2 separate regions of the Homo sapiens genome follow, and region 1 is linked to region 2. Evidence: fine-mapped expression QTL. Tissue or cell type: substantia nigra. Region 2 holds a variant in brackets; the other region holds the start of a gene. All regions are shown on one strand. Distances are between the middles of the regions.

The links. PIP is the estimated chance that this variant, and not a neighbour inherited with it, causes the effect.
Region 1: it holds the start of RASL10A, and the variant in region 2 is fine-mapped to the expression of RASL10A in substantia nigra (GTEx, PIP 0.92).

Annotation. Positions count from the first base shown.
Region 1 is chr22:29,312,415-29,320,414 of GRCh38, reverse strand. RASL10A (RAS like family 10 member A) reads left to right here and starts at 4,718. Exons shown (of 3, transcript NM_006477.5): 1 at 4,718-5,387; 2 at 6,428-6,552; 3 at 6,847-7,482. The coding sequence starts at 5,169. The coding sequence ends at 7,114. GAS2L1 (growth arrest specific 2 like 1) reads right to left here. Exons shown (of 6, transcript NM_001362985.3): 6 at 7,628-8,000. The coding sequence ends at 7,918. RefSeq lists enhancers at 4,722-5,526, 5,527-6,331.
Region 2 is chr22:29,280,445-29,288,699 of GRCh38, reverse strand. It overlaps EWSR1 (EWS RNA binding protein 1), which reads right to left. Exons shown (of 17, transcript NM_005243.4): 6 at 6,143-6,310; 7 at 1,566-1,777; 8 at 1-94. Among named protein-coding and RNA genes, the nearest start is that of EWSR1, 16 kb to the right of the region's middle. The variant T/C (reference allele first, on the strand shown) is at 3,473.

The sequences.
Region 1 (8,000 bases), 32 kb before region 2:
AGTGGTGTGATCATGGCTTACTGTAGCCTCGACCTCCAGGGCTCAAGCAATCCTCCCACCTCAGCTTCCTGAGTAGCTGGGACCACAGGTGTGCACCACCACGCCTAGCTAATTTTTTTTTTTTTTTTTTGAGACAGAGTCTTGCTCTGTCGCCCAGGCTGGAGTGCAGTGGTGCGATCTTGGCTCACTGCAACCTCTGCCTCCCGGGTTCACGCCATTCTCCTGCCTCAGCCTCCCGAGTAACTGGGACTACAGGCGCCCACCACCATGCCCGACTAATTTTTTGTATTTTTTAGTAGAGACGTGGTTTCACCATGTTAGCCAGGATGATCTGTATCTCCTGACCTCGTGATCCACCTGCCTCAGCCTCCCGAAGTGCTGGGATTACAGCACCCAGCTAGTTTTTTAATTTTTTTTTTTTTTTTTTTTTGAGACGGAGTCTCGCTCTGTCACCCAGGCTGGAGTGCAGTGGCGCAATCTCGGCTCACTGCAACCTCTGCCTCCCGGGTTCAAGTGACTCTCCTGCCTCAGCCTCCAGAGTAGCTGGGACTACAGGCCCCCGCCACCATGCCTGGCTAATTTTTATATTTTTAATAGAGATGGGGTTTCACCATGTTGGCCAGGCTGGTCTCAAATGCCTGACCTCGTGATTCCCCTGCCTCGGCCTCCCAAAATGCTGGGATTACAGGCGTGAGCCACTGCACCCAGCCAATTTTTAAAATTTTTTCTAGAGTCGGGGTCTCACTGTGTTGCCCAGGCTGGTCTGGAACTCCTGGGCCCAAGCGATCCTCCCGCCTGGGCCTCCCCAAGGTGCTGGAATTACAGGCGTCAGCCACTGCACCCAGCCCAAGGTGCAGAGAATTTAAGTAACTTGCACAGATGACACAGCCCTGGAAGGAGGTTTCAAACCCAAGAAAAGAAACTTTCAGAGGCTTGGAAGCCCAGCCCTGCCCAGCCTCCTTGTGTCCTGATGGCTGGAAGACCAGCCCAGCCCTCAAGAGGCTGCCTGGCTGTGATTAGTGGGAGTCATCATGAGGATGTCCAAGGACCCACTACACCCCAAGCATGTGAGCTGTGGAGGATCCCTCCATTCGTGGGTCCAGGAGGTGAGTTACTGGTGGTGTGGAGCCATGATTCGTGGCCAGGACAGACCATAATTAGTGGTGACTGGTGTGGCCTAGCAAAGGAGTCCAGAACTAACACCCCCTGGGAGCTGGATGCAGTCTTGGGTGCCTGACTTCAGGGATGGGCTGGAATCAGGCCCAGTTGGGAAGAAACACATGGGTGAAGGCCAGGTAGCTGGTGTTAGGAGCCTGTGGGCAATGAACTGGGGAAAGCAGAATTCCCCACCTGGTGCCTGCCCCTGCCCAGCCCTCCCCACTATCTGTGGCTTGATCCTTCAGGGCTCAGTATAAGCCCCTCAACTCCCGCTGGACTGGTGCTTACCCTAGGCCTCCTCATCTCCCCAGGCCTGAACCAGCCCAGAGCTCCTGTCTTCACCCGTCCCTGCCTAGCTGCATGTCTGTCTCTTTCTCCCTGCCACAGAGGGTAGGCAGGACCACCTTGGCCACTGTGTGCCTAGTGCCAGTCCCCTCTGCTGAAGGAGAAGATGCATGCATAGTTGGCAGGTGGTCCCTGGAGCCCTGGATAGGGGCATTCAAGGAGTGCCCAGGAGGCCCCTGGGGAATAGGGATTGGAGGGGGGCAGCAGGCAGGAGGCCTACAGCCTTTCCTTGGGGAAGGAATGAGGGGACTGATGAGAGAACCCTGAAATCCACATCCCAGGCAGACAGGCAGCTTCAGCCCCCCAGCCTGCTGGTCTTTAGGAAGCCTGGCACAGGGCTGCACACTCCCATTAGAGCTCATTTCAGCCCCTGTGGATGGGGGGCTCCACGGGACCTAGAGGCCTCCCCAAGTCCCTCCCGACAGGGGGCTGAGTGGTCACTGGGGGCTGAGCTTCAGTTGAGTACTTCCTGAGAACCCTCTGGGTCCAGATGAAGCCAGGCTTCTCAGCCAGGCTCTGGAGCCCAAGGGCCTGGGTTCCGGCCCCTGTGCTGCCATTTTCCTGCTAGGCAACTGTGGCCCAATCATGGCGTCCCAGGGAGCCTTAGTGAGCATGAGGCTGTGGGTCAGGCTTGGCACATCGCAGGCCCTTGATAAATGGGCACTGCTGCTAGGAACGCTGCTGTGAGAGTCTCCTAGGGAACATGGCACGTTTGCAGGGCTTCATGGGAGCCTCAGGACGTTCCCAGTCCACAGTGCCCCTTCCCCTCGCCATCCAAAAACACATACTGGGAGCCAGAGACGCCTCACACACAGCTCTGTTTGCAGTGTCGGAAGGAGAAGCAAGGAAAGTTTTTCAGAGAAAGAATACCCAGGGGTGGGCGGGAGTGCGCCTAGCATTGAGAACACCTTAAAAAAGACCGTCCTGGCCGGGCGCAGTGGCTCATGCCTGAAACCCCAGCACTTTGGGAGGCTGAGGCGGGTGGATCACCTGAGGTCAGCAGTTCGAGACCAGCCTGACCAATATGGTGAAACCCCGTCTCTACTAAAAAACACAAAAATTAGCCGGGCATGGTGGCATGTGCCTGTAGTCCCAGCTACTCTAGAGGCTGAGACAGGAGAATTGCTTGAACCCAGGAGGTGGAGGTTGCAGTGAGCCAAGATCGCACCACTGCACTCCAGCCTGGGTGACAGACCGAGACTCCATCTCAAAACAAACAAACAAAAGACCGTCCTGGTGTCAGCTTTTCAGACTTCTGGGTTTTGTTGTTGTGTTGCTGAGTGCCTTGTTATTTACTCCTTGCCTTGTTCCCCGAAGGAATTGAAGCAGCTCACAAAACCCAGAAGCCTGAAAAGTCAAAAACCCAGAAGTTTGGCCAGATGTGGTGGCTCACGCCTGTAATCCTCGCACTTTTGGAGGCTGAGGAGGGAGGATTGCTTAAGCCAGGAGTTCAAGACCAGCCTGGGCAACATAGTGAGATTCCACCTCTACAAAAAATAAAAATAAATCAGCTGGATGTCGTAGTACACACCTGCAGTCCCAGCTATTTGAGAGACTGAGGCAAGGAGGATCACTTGAACCCAGGAGGTTGAGGATGCAGTGAGCTAAGATCACACCACTGCACTCCAGCTTGGGTGACAGAGCAAGACCTTGTCTCAAACAACAAAACCCAGAAGTCTGAAAAGTTACAACGTGAAAGAGGACATCAAGTGAAGGGAAAAATCATGGTAGGAAAGAAAGATGAAGCCAGCAGTCCCCACTCACTGAGCTAGAAGACCTGGAACACTAGACAGAGGTGGTTCTGAGCTTCCTAGTGGCTGAGGAGAGGAGTGAAAGCGGACCCCAGCCCCCGATCTAGCATGGGAGGATGAAAGCACAGCCATTGTTCTGGAGACACTTTCTGGTTGTCATTATACAGGCTCCCTGGAGGATGTGCCTCCTCCCCCTTCAGGATTTAGCTCCTCTACTTCCCCTGGGCTGGTGTGGGCACATTGTCTGTGCTTTGACAGTCCCTAGATCCCATGTGTTCTAGAACCTTCTCTCCCAAAGCAGAACTTTTTTTTTTTTTCCTGTTTTCTGTTTTTTAAATCTATCTCAGCCTCCTGACAAGCAATAAGATTTGGAATATTTGTTGAGGGGATAAATAAATGAACTCCTTAGTCAGTGCAGAGATCTGTGCATTGCGGCCATTTCTTGAGCATTGCCGCCATTTCTTGAGCATTGCCATGTGCAGGTCAGAGACGTGGGAGCCCCCACACAGCGGGGAGGAGAGCAGAGGCGGAGGATGGGGGGGCTGGGCTAACCCAGGCTTTCCAAGCTGTGATGGGGCAGGAGCTTCTCCACTAGCTCGAGGGAGGGGGAACTTGGGCTCTGGGCGCCTGTTTTGGAGGTTGCATCCCTTTGAGGGGCGCTACGGGTTGCAACTCACGCAGGAAAGGTGACCTTAGTAGTGATGGAGGTGGAGTGGGCCAATTTCTGGATCTTTATTTAGTCACCTCCAGCCTTGCTGGGACAGGGATCTGGGGCTAAGCTGCTGTGGTCTCGGCACCCTCTGTCCCCACTTCCCCTCGAGGACGGCTGTTTGAATATTGTCTAGTGTGGGCCATTTACCCCCGTGGGCAGGAGGAAGGTAGGAGGGACTTCAAAGGAGACTTCAAGGGCCCCCCCACTGCCCTTCTAACCTTGCAGATTCCCCTCTCGGGCCTGTTTCCTCTTCTCTCAACCAGCGATGCCAGGCTGAGGCTGTAGGTTCGAGAATCACGTAGGTAATGGGCCTGGCACATAGTAGGCTCTCAAGAAAAGGTTGGAGCCTCTTGAGGAGTCTGCCTGTGATGGATGCGGAGCGCAGACCCAGCGCAGTGCGGCGATTCGCCCAAGGTCACACAGCCGCCCCCCCCAATTCGGACCCCGGGCGGCCTGACTCCGGGGGCCGGGGCTTGTCGGGAGCCAGCGTGGGGGCGAGCAGTGTTTGGAAGAGCGGCCGCGGCAGTGGGTGGGAAGGGGCTTCTATTTTGGAGCGGGTGAGAGGAGCGGGACACGCGGAGGAGGTAAGGAAGGGGTAGGCCCTCTCCGGGATCTCTGTCCCCCAGTCACCTTCCTGCGACCCTTCCTGGGAGGGGCGTCCTGGGCGGTGGGGGAAGGTGGGAGGGGCGGGCGGTTACCTCATCGCCGCCTCCGGGAGGCCCCGCTCGCTCGCGCCGGCGGCTGGGGCGGCGACTCCAGGCGCGGAAGCGAGAGAAGGATAGAGGCACAGAGGCTCCGGGAGGCAGCGCTGCCCCCCGCGCCCCGCACCGCTGCGGGACCCGCGCCGCGAGAGGGGCGGACTTCGGCGCCTCGCGCGTCCGCCGGCGCCTGGGTTGGCGCTGCGGGGCGGAGGCGGTGTCTGAGCGCCGCTCCGGCTCTGCTCTCTCTCGAGCTTCGGCACCCGCCCGAGCCGCTCGCGCGCCCGCCACCTGTCTGCCCACTCGGCTGTCTGTCTGCCCTCCCGCCGCCAGCTCCTGCCTCGGGCCTGCCCTCTCCGGTCTCGGTGCTCCGAGGGGCGACGAGAAGCGCGACGGGGCCGTGGCGCACCGGGCAGGGCGCGCGGGGCGCACGGCCTGGGGGCGCACGGTGCGGCGCCGGCCCATGAGGCTTTCCAGCGCGGGGAGCGACAGCGCCGGCCGGCCATGGGGGGTAGCCTGCGGGTGGCCGTTCTAGGCGCCCCGGGCGTGGGCAAGACGGCCATCATCCGCCAGTTCCTGTTCGGTGACTACCCCGAGCGCCACCGGCCCACGGACGGGCCGCGCCTCTACCGACCCGCGGTGCTGCTCGACGGCGCCGTCTACGACTTGAGCATCCGCGACGGCGACGTCGCTGGCCCCGGCTCGAGCCCCGGGGGTCCGGAGGTAGCGGCTCGAGGAGCGGGCAGGGGCGTGTGACAGTGTGAGGGGTGTGCGTGCTCGGTGCACACGTGCGTGTCCGCGTGGAGGCCTCGGGCGCCTGGCTGTGCTCCGGGATGGAGGGATGTGTGTGCGTCCTGGGATACTTGCGTTTCAGCCCTTCCCGCCGACCTGGAGACGCCCAAGCCCAGGCTGGAGGCCGGGCGATTTTGCCCAGGGGCGTTCCCTTGCTCCTGTGAGCGCCTCCACCTTTGCCTGCCTCGGCTGGGGGTGTGGAGCAGCTCTTGGTGGTGCATAACGGTGCCTTCCCGAGAGTGTGGCGTTTTGTGTTTGGGGCCTTGAGCAGAGCTACAATGGGAGAGACTGGGGTCAGGAGCAGGGGTGTACTTTCTACGGGGGCTGGTGGAGGGGTTCATTCTCTGCCCTATCATTTTTGTCCCCTGGAGCGAAGACTCGTTTAGTAATTTGTGCAAAGTAAAGGACAGACCTCCGACCCTAGAGCAGTGAAGAGGAAAGAGCAGGCAGGATTAAGCAGGGCTTCCTGGAGGGAGTGGCATTTGAGCTGAACCTGGAAGACCGAGTGAAGTTCTGAGTAAAGGAAGTGGCAAAAACATACCAGGTGGAAAGACCAGCAGGTGCTTACGCTACGGTCATAAACGGTTACAGCTGACAATCTGGGGGCGTGGTGGACCACGGGACTCGGGCCAAGGGCTTTGGAATTAGTCTTAGAGGCCGTGGTAAGCACCGAGAGCATCTAGGGAGGAGAGCGGCCTGAGCCGAGTTGGGGAAAGCTGAAAAGAGGAAGATTCGGGGTAAACAGAGGGGAGACCAAGGATGAAGGAGGCTGGCTGACAGGCTCCAGGCACGATTTGGAAAATTTTACCCTGGTGGTCATGAGGAGACGGCCCGGAAAGCTTGGGGGAGGGGCACAGAGGTCTGTATGGGGGTGATGTTGGCCTGAGGATTAGCGTCCAGGCCCCTGCAGAGGGTTCGAGAGCGGAAGAGTGGAAAGGAGGCTTCCGCAAACCCTGGCCTCCTGTCCCCAGGAGTGGCCAGACGCTAAGGACTGGAGCTTGCAGGACACGGACGCCTTCGTGCTCGTCTACGACATCTGCAGCCCGGACAGTTTCGACTACGTGAAGGCCCTGCGGCAGCGCATCGCGGAGACCAGGTAGGGGCCCGGCAGTTCTGGCGGTGGGGAGCTAGGACAGGTCTGGCAGGGCCTTTGCCTGAGGAGAGTGTGTAGGGTCTCCCAACGTCGTGGGCCGGGTCTTAGGCCTTCGCCCGTGGGAAGGTCTTAAGCTGTATGTGCTCTTTGGCCCACATGGGCCTGGGGTTTCGTTGGGGCGGCGGGGGGGGCGGTGTCTCTGGCCGTAGGAAGGGAATGCGCCTGCGTGTGTATACCCACTGGGGGAATTCTCCGGCCGTGGGGTCCCCGCGTCTCTCATCTCCATTCGGCCCCCAGGCCGGCGGGCGCGCCCGAAGCGCCCATCCTCGTGGTAGGCAACAAGCGGGACAGGCAGCGGCTGCGCTTCGGACCGCGGCGCGCGCTGGCCGCCCTAGTGCGCAGGGGCTGGCGCTGCGGCTACCTCGAGTGCTCCGCCAAGTACAACTGGCACGTGCTGCGTCTCTTCCGCGAGCTGCTGCGCTGCGCTCTGGTGCGCGCGCGCCCTGCACACCCGGCCCTGCGCCTGCAGGGGGCGCTGCATCCCGCGCGCTGCAGCCTCATGTGACCCGATCGGACAGTGCCATCCATGGGCCCCACCTTGTGACTGGGACAATCAGGGACCTGGATTGGACGGGATCGCCCAACTTCACTGGGACTGGACAGGGAAGTCTCCGCCCTGATTGGATGAGGAAAGCTCCAACCCAGTCTCCTAAGCGACTGGCCCCCTTTTGAACCTCATTGGACCCAACCAGGTCCCAAGCTCCATTGGAGATGACCAGTCCTTTCTGGGACCTCAATGGGTCACAATCCCATTGGATGGAAAGGACTTGGCTATGAACTTGACTGGAAACACGCAGCCTGCTCCTGGAGCTTCACTGGACATATTCTTTATGCCACACCTACCACGGGATAATAAAAGGGAAAATAATTTGAGTGCGCCTGGGATTTCTGGGCTGGGCGGGATAACGCCTTAAGCCTAGAGGTCAGAGTTGCCAGGCTTGGCCTCCAGGCAGTTAACTCCAGGGTCCTCGAAAGGGTCTGAATGGCCCCAAGGTGGAGTCCCCAAGAAACAGACAGGTGGCTGGAGCAAAACTTTACTGTCAGAGGCTCTGCTGGGCCACAGGTCTTCAGAACACCGGGCTCGCCCGGCCTCCTCTAAGGCATTCAATAATATTAGTAATTAAATAGCAACGCTCATCCCCCAACCGGAATGTACAACAGAGGTCCCATTGTGCCATGTGGTCCCAAGGGGTCTGGTCCCATGAGGTCTGGTACTCAAGAGGCAGAGGGGGCTCCCTGATGCAGAAGGGTTAAGGCCACAAAGGAAAAGGAGAAGGGATGGGGTCTGGGGACAGCTGAGCTGGTCCATCACATCCAGGAATCTGGCTCAGCCCTCGGGGTGACTGAGTGCAGGGCATGCCATGTCCCCAGCTCTGCGGGTCCGGAGGGGC
Region 2 (8,255 bases):
CCACTCATGCTCCGGTTCTCTCCTGGTCCGGAAAATCCTCCAGACTCCTGCCCATAAACACCCATGCTACTGGGGTGGTCCTGTCGGAATGAACCTGAGGAAAGAGTCACATCTGTAAGCCATGGACCAGCATTTACACCACTGCCTGATGTACTTTCTCCTGGAATCACAAAATCCTCAATTCCAAGGCACTAACCAAGGCACCATCTTCTTTACATCACGATAAAGCATCCTTAATAGGTAGGCTCTTTTAAGTTCAACAAAACTGCTGGATCATCACAGCTGAAATAACCTTATATAGTTAGCCTATAATAAACCTCTTCTAAATAACAACAACAAAAAAAGCCCTCTGGCTAACATATAGTTTATAGGGTTCTATATCCTAAGATGTCTCCAAAAGCAGCTTCTTTTGAGCTAAACTCAAGAAATGAAAACAGAGCCAGGTTTCTTAGGGCTTTAGCACACTGCTAGGGGCTGAGCTCCATAAATCAACACTACTCCTTTGAGTTGTTGAGAAATCCCCGTGGATAGAATGTAATTTAAAAAGAGCAATGATCCTAAATTCTGAAGATAATTATGTGTTTTGGTTACCTCTCTCCATACAGAAGAACTGCAAATATTCTGTGAGGAGGATTATTTTTCCCCCTTTCCTTTTCTATTTTCTTAAAGAATCTTTATTTATCTTTAAAAAGACAGGGTCTCACTATGTTGCCCAGGGTGGTCTCAAACTCCTGGTCTCAAGTGATCCTCCTGCCTTGGCCTCCCCCAAAGTGCTGGGATTACAGGTGTGAGCCACCATGCCTGGCCATTTTTCCCCTTAATGGATATAAACAAACAGCAACAAAAAAACATAGCTTTTACTTGACTATCAAAATCATAGTGGCCTGCAATAGCTGCCTCCCCACTTTACATTAATGACTGATAGGGAGGCCAAAAACGATGTTGAATTTACTCACTGCATACAACTTCCCCAAAGACAGCAGGGCTAGCAGTCTAAAACATTTTTTCTGATCAATTAGTATCTCTTTTCTTTTTTGCCAAGGCATACTAAAAACAAATTGGAAAAAAGCACTGAAATCTTCACTGGGGCATCCAAGATGTTAGCTGGAATGCCATGCCCTAAAGATGTGTCCTGGATTCCAAAAGCAAACAATGGCAAAGAGTATTCCCCCTGTTCAAAAACTCCAAACGTGGCTGGGCGCAGTGGCTCATGACTGTAATCCCAACACTCTGGGTGGCTGAGGCGGGAGGATCACCTGAGGTCAGGAGTTCGAGACCAGCCTGACCAACATGGTGAAACCCCGTCTCTACGAAAAATACAAAAAATAGCTGGGCATAGTGGCAGGCGCCTATCATCTCAGCTACTCGGGAGGCTGGGGCAGGAGAATTGCTTGAACCAGGAGGCGGAGGCTGCAGTGAGCTGAGATGGCACCACTGTACTCCAGCCTCAGCCCCAAGAGTGAAACTCCATCTCAAAAGAAAAACAAACCAACAAAAAAAATCAACCCCACAAAAAAACTCTAAACACATTCATTCTTATTTGGTTTTCTCTCTTAGCAACTCACTCTGCTGCCCGTAGCTGCTGCTCTGTTGGCTATATTGACTTGGAGCTTGGCTGTAGGATCCAGTTTGGGGTGGGTAACTAGTGGGAGGCTGCTGCCCATAGCTGCTTTGTTGACCATAGCTACTCTGCTGTCCATAGCTGCTCGGTTGCCCATAGGTGTTCTGCTGAGAGTAACTGCTCTGATCATAACTAGTCGGCTGTGTAGAGGAATAGCTGAAAGAGAGAGAAGAGAAAAAAAAAAAAGCTTTTTTAGAAAGAGGCTTGTTATTTCAAATCCCCTGAATAAAAGAGACATTCACACCATGTGACACAGACATCCATAAAACAGTAGTTACTTTCTACACATCAACAATTTGAATTTCAACTCAGCAAATACTTTTGTGTTCAGAATAAAACATTAAATGGGAGGGTAAAACAAAAAAATTTTTTTTTTTTTTTTTTTTTTTTTTGAGACAGAGTGTTGCTCTGTTGCCTAGGCTGGAATGCAGTGGCGTGATCTCCGGTCACTGCAAGCTCTGCCTCCCGGGTTCATGCCATTCTCCTGCCGCAGCCTCCCGAGTAGCTGGGACTACAGGTGCCCACCACCACGCCTGGCTAGTTTTTTTGTTTTTAGTAGAGACAGGGTTTCATCTTGTTAGCCAGGATGGTCTCCATCTCCTGACCTCATGATCCGCCCACCTCGGCCTCCCAAAGTGCTGGGATTACAGGCATGAGCCACGGTGCCCAGCTGGGAGGGGGAAATATTATAACCACCATCTGTATAATCCTTAAAGAGTTTTCTCTTAATCGCCACTCCCATTTAAAACAATGGTCATTTTCAGCTGGGAGCGGAGGCTCATGCCTGTAATCCCAGCACTTTGGAAGGCTGAGGCTGGGGGAATGGCATGAACCCGGGAGGTGGAGTTTGCAGTGAGCTGAGATCCGCTACTGTACTCCAGCCTTGGCGACTCGGGAACAGAGTGAAGATTCCGTCTCCAAAAAAAAACCCAAAAAATCAGGCCGGGTGCGGTGGCTCACGCTTGTAATCTCAGCACTTTGGGAGGCCGAGGCAGGCACATCATGAGGTCAAGAGATCGAGACCATCCTGGCTAACATGGTGAAACCCCCATCTCTACTAAAAAATACAAAAAATTAGCCAGGCCTGGTGGTGGGCGCCTGTAGTCCCAGCTACTGGGGAGGCTGAGGCAGGAGAATGGCATGAACCCAGGAGGCGGAGCTTGCAGTGAGCCGAGATAGTGCCACTGCACTCCAGCCTGGGCGACAGAGCGAGACTCCGTCTCAAAAGAACAAAACAAAACGTCATTTTCAACTATATTCAAGGCAGGCAAATATGGGAGTTTAGATGCTTCCTGTATTGTGGCAAGAATATGCACTTGGGGAAGGCTGACCCAGTGAAATGGGGACTGAGAAAATATAGAGAGAGTGAAGTGAGGCATTCAGTTCCAAGCCTGCCCGCCAATAATCTCGAGTTAACGATTTTCTGAAGGGATAAGGGTACTCAACACAAAAATAGTAGTTTTCCCTCAAAGATTTGTCTTTGCTACTTTCAATCTTTCAGACATGCCTGATTAACTATGAAATCTGAGTATTAATAGAGGAAACTTCAGAATGAAGGAATTGTATGAAAGACAAATATTAAGATTATGTCAATTACATGGGAGAAATTAATAGATACATTCTTGCACAGAAATGAAGCTTGAAAAGAACTGGTATTGGCCAGGTTTGAAGGCTCATGCCTGTAATCCCAGCACTTTGGGAGGCCAAGGCAGGTGGATCACCTGAGGTCAGGAGTTTGAGACCAGCCTGACCAACATAGTGAAACCCCACCTACTAAAAATACAAAAATTAGCTGGGTATGGTGGCACACGCCTATAGTCCCAGCTACTCGAGAGGCTGCGGCAAGAGAAC[T/C]GTTTAAACCTGGAAGGCAGAGGCTGCAGTGAGCCAAGACAGCGCCACTGCACTCCAACCTGGGCAACAGAGCAAAACTCCATCTCAAAAAAAAAAAAAAAAAAACAAGGGCCAGAAGCAGTGGCTCACACCTGTAATCCCAGCACTTTGGGAGGCAGAGACGGGTGGATCACCTGAGGTCAGGGGTTCGAGACTAGCCTGACCAACATGGAAAAACACCGTCTCTACTAAAAATACAAAATTAGCTGTGTGTGGTGGCACATGCCTATAATGCCAGCTACTTGGGAGGCTGACGTAGGAGAATCACTTTAACCTGGGAGGCGAGGGTTGCGGTGAGCCAAGATCGCACCATTGCACTCCAGCCTAGGTAACAGGAGTGAAACTCCGTCTCAAAAAAACAAAACAAAACACACACAAAAACAAAAAAACCCATCTGGTATTAAGCTTTACAAATCATGATGAGAAACAGTAAGGACACATATTTTAAAGTCCGATTAAACTAGGCCAGGAAGTTCGAGGCTACAGGGGGCTACGACTGTGTCACTGTACCCCAGCCTGGACAACAGAGTGAGACCCGGTCTCCAAAAATAAACAAACAAACAAAGCTTCTAACACACCACATCCCTCACCATTGCTGTATGAATTCAATAATCTCTCACTGTGTACCTATCCAACTTGCCAGATTAACTGCTATTAACTGCTCTCAATGCAATAGGTACGAACCTGCTCTGTGGAAGAAGGGTTGTAAGCCCTACCCACTTTTGCTCCAAGCTGGCTGTATGGAGAGACACCCAATCAATTCTACTTGTTCCTAAACCTGTTCACATCTGCTGCAAAACAATGAAATGAGTGCAAAAAAGGGAACCGCTACTTCTAGCAAAACTTTCAGGGCACAATTCAAACAATTTGAAAACCCACATCTAATTAAACATGGGTTAAGAAAACTTGCAGGCTGGGCATGGTGGCTCACACCTGTAATCCCATAATCCCAGCACTTTGGGAGGCCAAGGTGGGCGGATCACTTGAGGCCAGGAGTTCAAGACCAGCCTGGCCAACATTGTGAAACCCTGTATCTACTAAAAATACAAAAACTGGGCCAGGCGCAGTGGCTCATGCCTGTATTCCCAGCACTTTGGGAGGCCGAGGCAGGCGGATCACCTGAGGATGGGAGTTCAAGACCAGCCTGACCAACATGGAGAAACCCCGTCTCTACTAAAAATACAAAATTAGCCGGTTGTGGTGGCGTCTGTATCTAATCCCAGCTACTAGGGAGGCTGAGGCAGGAGAATCGCTTGAACCCAGGAGGCAGAGGTTGCGGTGAGCCAAGATCACGCCATTGCACTCCAGCCTGGGCAACAAGAGCAAAACTCCATCTCAAAACAAACAAACAAACTGGCTGGGCGCAGGGGCTCGCGCCTGTCACCCCAGCACTTTGGGAGGTGGAGGCGGGTGGATCACCTGAGGTCAGGAATTCCAGACAAGCCTGGCCCACATGGTGAAACCCTGTCTCTACTAAAAATACAAAAAAAAAAATTTTTGCCAGGTGTGGTAGTGAGCACTTGTAATCCCAGCTACTCAGGAGGCTGAAGCAGGAGAATCACTTGAACCCAGGAGGTGGAAACTGCAGTAAGCCGAGATTGTGCCATTGCACTCCAGCCTGGGCAACAAGAGCGAAACTCCATCTCAAAACAACAATAAAACAAAAAGAAAAGTTAGTCAGGTGTGGTGGCATGCACTTGCAGTCCCAGCTACTCGGGAGGCTGAGGCATGAGAATCCCTAGGAGGCAGAGGTTGCAGTGAGCGGAGATCGTGCCACTGCACTCCAGCCTGTGCAACAGAGTGAGACTCTGTCTCAAAAAAGAAAACTTGGCCAGGCGATAATAATAAAAATAAAATAAAAAGAGTTGGCCCATACATTAAAAGGTTAGTGCATGAATAAACCTTTATGTGTTAGGTAAAATGTAAAATGATTAAGGTGAATTATAATGCCCTGCGCTTTACTTATCCTAACTGCATTGGGGAAGATGGCTCTTACATCTATTTACATGCTTTCATATACTTCTGCTTCCCATCTGAGTTAACTAAAACAGCAAAAGGAAGAAACTTAAAGAAAGAACTTAGAGTGGTAAAAATGTTTTTGTATTTAGAAAGAATAGTTATTAGCTGGGCCGGGTGCGGTGGCTCACGCCTGTAATCCCAGCACTGTGGGAGGCCGAGATGGGTGGATCACGAGGTCAGGAGATTGAGACCATCCTGGCCAACACAGTGAAACCCTGTCTCTACTAAAAATACAAAAAATTAGCTGGGCGTGGTGGCGGGCACCCGTAGTCCCAGCTACTCGGGAGGTTGAGGCAGGAGAATGGCGTGAACCCAGGAGGTGGAGCTTGCAGTGAGCCGAGATCGCGCCACTGCACTCCAGCCTGGGCGACAGAGAGAGACTCCGTCTCGGGGGAAAAAAAAAAAAAAAGAAAAAAGAATAGTTATTAGCTGCCAGGCAACACTATGGGACCCTAGATCTCAGGCTTTAATGTAACCAAGTATGGTCAGATGACTTATCACTGCGACAGTCAGATAACATACCTTAGCTGAAGAAGTCAAAGCAAGCTGGTCAACAACCTGAAAAAAACTGTTTTGTCACTGTTTTTGTTTTGCCACAAAAAGTAGACTGACCTGGTAGGAGGGTAGGATGGAGGTGCAGTGACTGGCTGCATGGGGTAGCTCCCAGGTACCTGGGGATAACTGTAGTTACTCTGTCCATATCCTAGGCTGGGCTGGTTGTAACCCCCTGTGCTAGATTGAGGTTGACTAGTCTCAGTGGGCTTGTTTCCATCCTGCGGTCTAAGAGGAGAAATAATAAATAAAATTAAAAAGTGACTTTTTTTGTGTGGTTGGTCAACCACAAAACTCCTGGGTAAGAATGCTACAAAGCTACGAGCAATAAGCAATGTTATGATTAAGCCTGGAAATAAATACAATAATAAATACAATCCTAAAGTAAACTACATCAAACTCAGTGTCGGTCCAACTATATTTGCTTGAAGACAACACTAAGGAAGGGGGAGAATCAATCATATCCACAGAAGAGACATTAATATGCTCCATTCATCACAGTAAACGCTATAAAAGTGCGTTGCGATATTGTGTGCTACCAGTTTAGGTGATCCGGGAGAAGTGATCTGTTAGGGAATAAATGCTTTTTCTCAAAGGGGACTGCTGAAGACCAGAAACTAACAATAATGTTAAGTTTTAGGTTGAAGTAACATTTACGTAAGTCCATGGCATCATAAATTTAGAGAATTTGTGGGTTTATGTTTCTCATTTATTAAAAACAGACCAGGTCAAGGCCAGGCGAGAATGGCTCATGCCTATAATCCCAGCACTTTGGGAGGCCGAGGAGGGCGGATCACGAGGTCAGCAGATTGAGACCATCCTGGCTAAGACAGTGAAACCCTGTCTCTACTAAAAATACAAAAAAAAAAATTAGCCAGGCATGGTGGTGGGCGCCTGTAGTCCCAGCTACTCAGGAAGCTGAGGCAGGAGAATGGCGTGAACCCAGGAGGCGGAGCTGGCAGTGAGCCGAGATCGCGCCACTGCACTCCAGCCTGGGCGACAGAGCAAGACTCCGTCTCAAAAACAAACAAACAAAAAAAATCCCAGCACTTTGGGAGGCTGAGGCAGGAGGATGGTTTGAGCCCAGGAGTTTCAGACCAGCCTGGTAATATAGGGAGACCCCACCTCTACAGAAATAGAAAAATATTAGCCAGGTATGGTGGTACATGCCTGTGGTCTCAGCTACTTGGAAGACTGAGGTGGGAGGGACTGCTGGGGCATGGGAGGTGAAGGCTGCAGTGAGCTGTTAGATCGCGTACTCCATCCTGGGCAACAGAGAGACTCCATCTCAAAAAAAACAAACTGCCAGGTGCGGTGGCTCATGCCTATAATCCCAGCACTTTGGGAGGCCAAGGCAGGTGGATTGCATGATGTCAGGAGTTGGACACCAGCCTGGCCAACATGGAGAAACCCCGTCTCTACTAGAAATACAAAAAATTGGCTGGTAGCGGTGGTTCACACCTATAATCCCAGAACTTTGGGAGGCTGAGACAGGAGGATCACGAGGTCAGGAGATCGAGACTATCCTGGCAAACACAGTGAAACCCTGTCTCTACTAAAAATACAAAAAATTAGCCAGGCATCATGGTGGGTGCCTGTAGTCCCAGCTACTTGGGAGGCTGAGGTAGGAGAATGGCATGAACCTGGGAGGCGGAGCTTGCAGTGAGCTGAGATGGCGCCACTGCACTCCAGCCTGGGCGACGGAGCAAGACTCTGTCAAAAAAAAAAAAAAAAAAAAAAAAAAAAAAAAAAAAACAACACACACACACACACAAAATTAGCTGGGCAGAGTGGCGGGCACCTGTAATCCCAGCTACTCAGGAGGCTGAGGCAGGAGAATCACTTGAACCCCGGAGGCGGAGGCTCCAGCGAGCCGAGATTGTGCCATCGCACTCTAGCCTGGACAACAAGAGCAAAACTCCATCTTAAAAAAAAAAAAAAAACCAACCAAACCATCCAACCAACCAGAAAAAAATCATTTCCTAAACTGGGCTGCCATAAACTAATCTAACTTGGCTCAAAGTCTCCGTAATGGAAACACCAGAGTAAGGCAAAGAGACCCCTCCCAAGTCCCTGCTCAGATGAACCTGGAAGTAAGTATCCCTGTTAAATGACGAAAATTAATCTCAGTTCCAAGGAAAACTCCAGGGGTTTCTATTACCTCTTGGCCCTA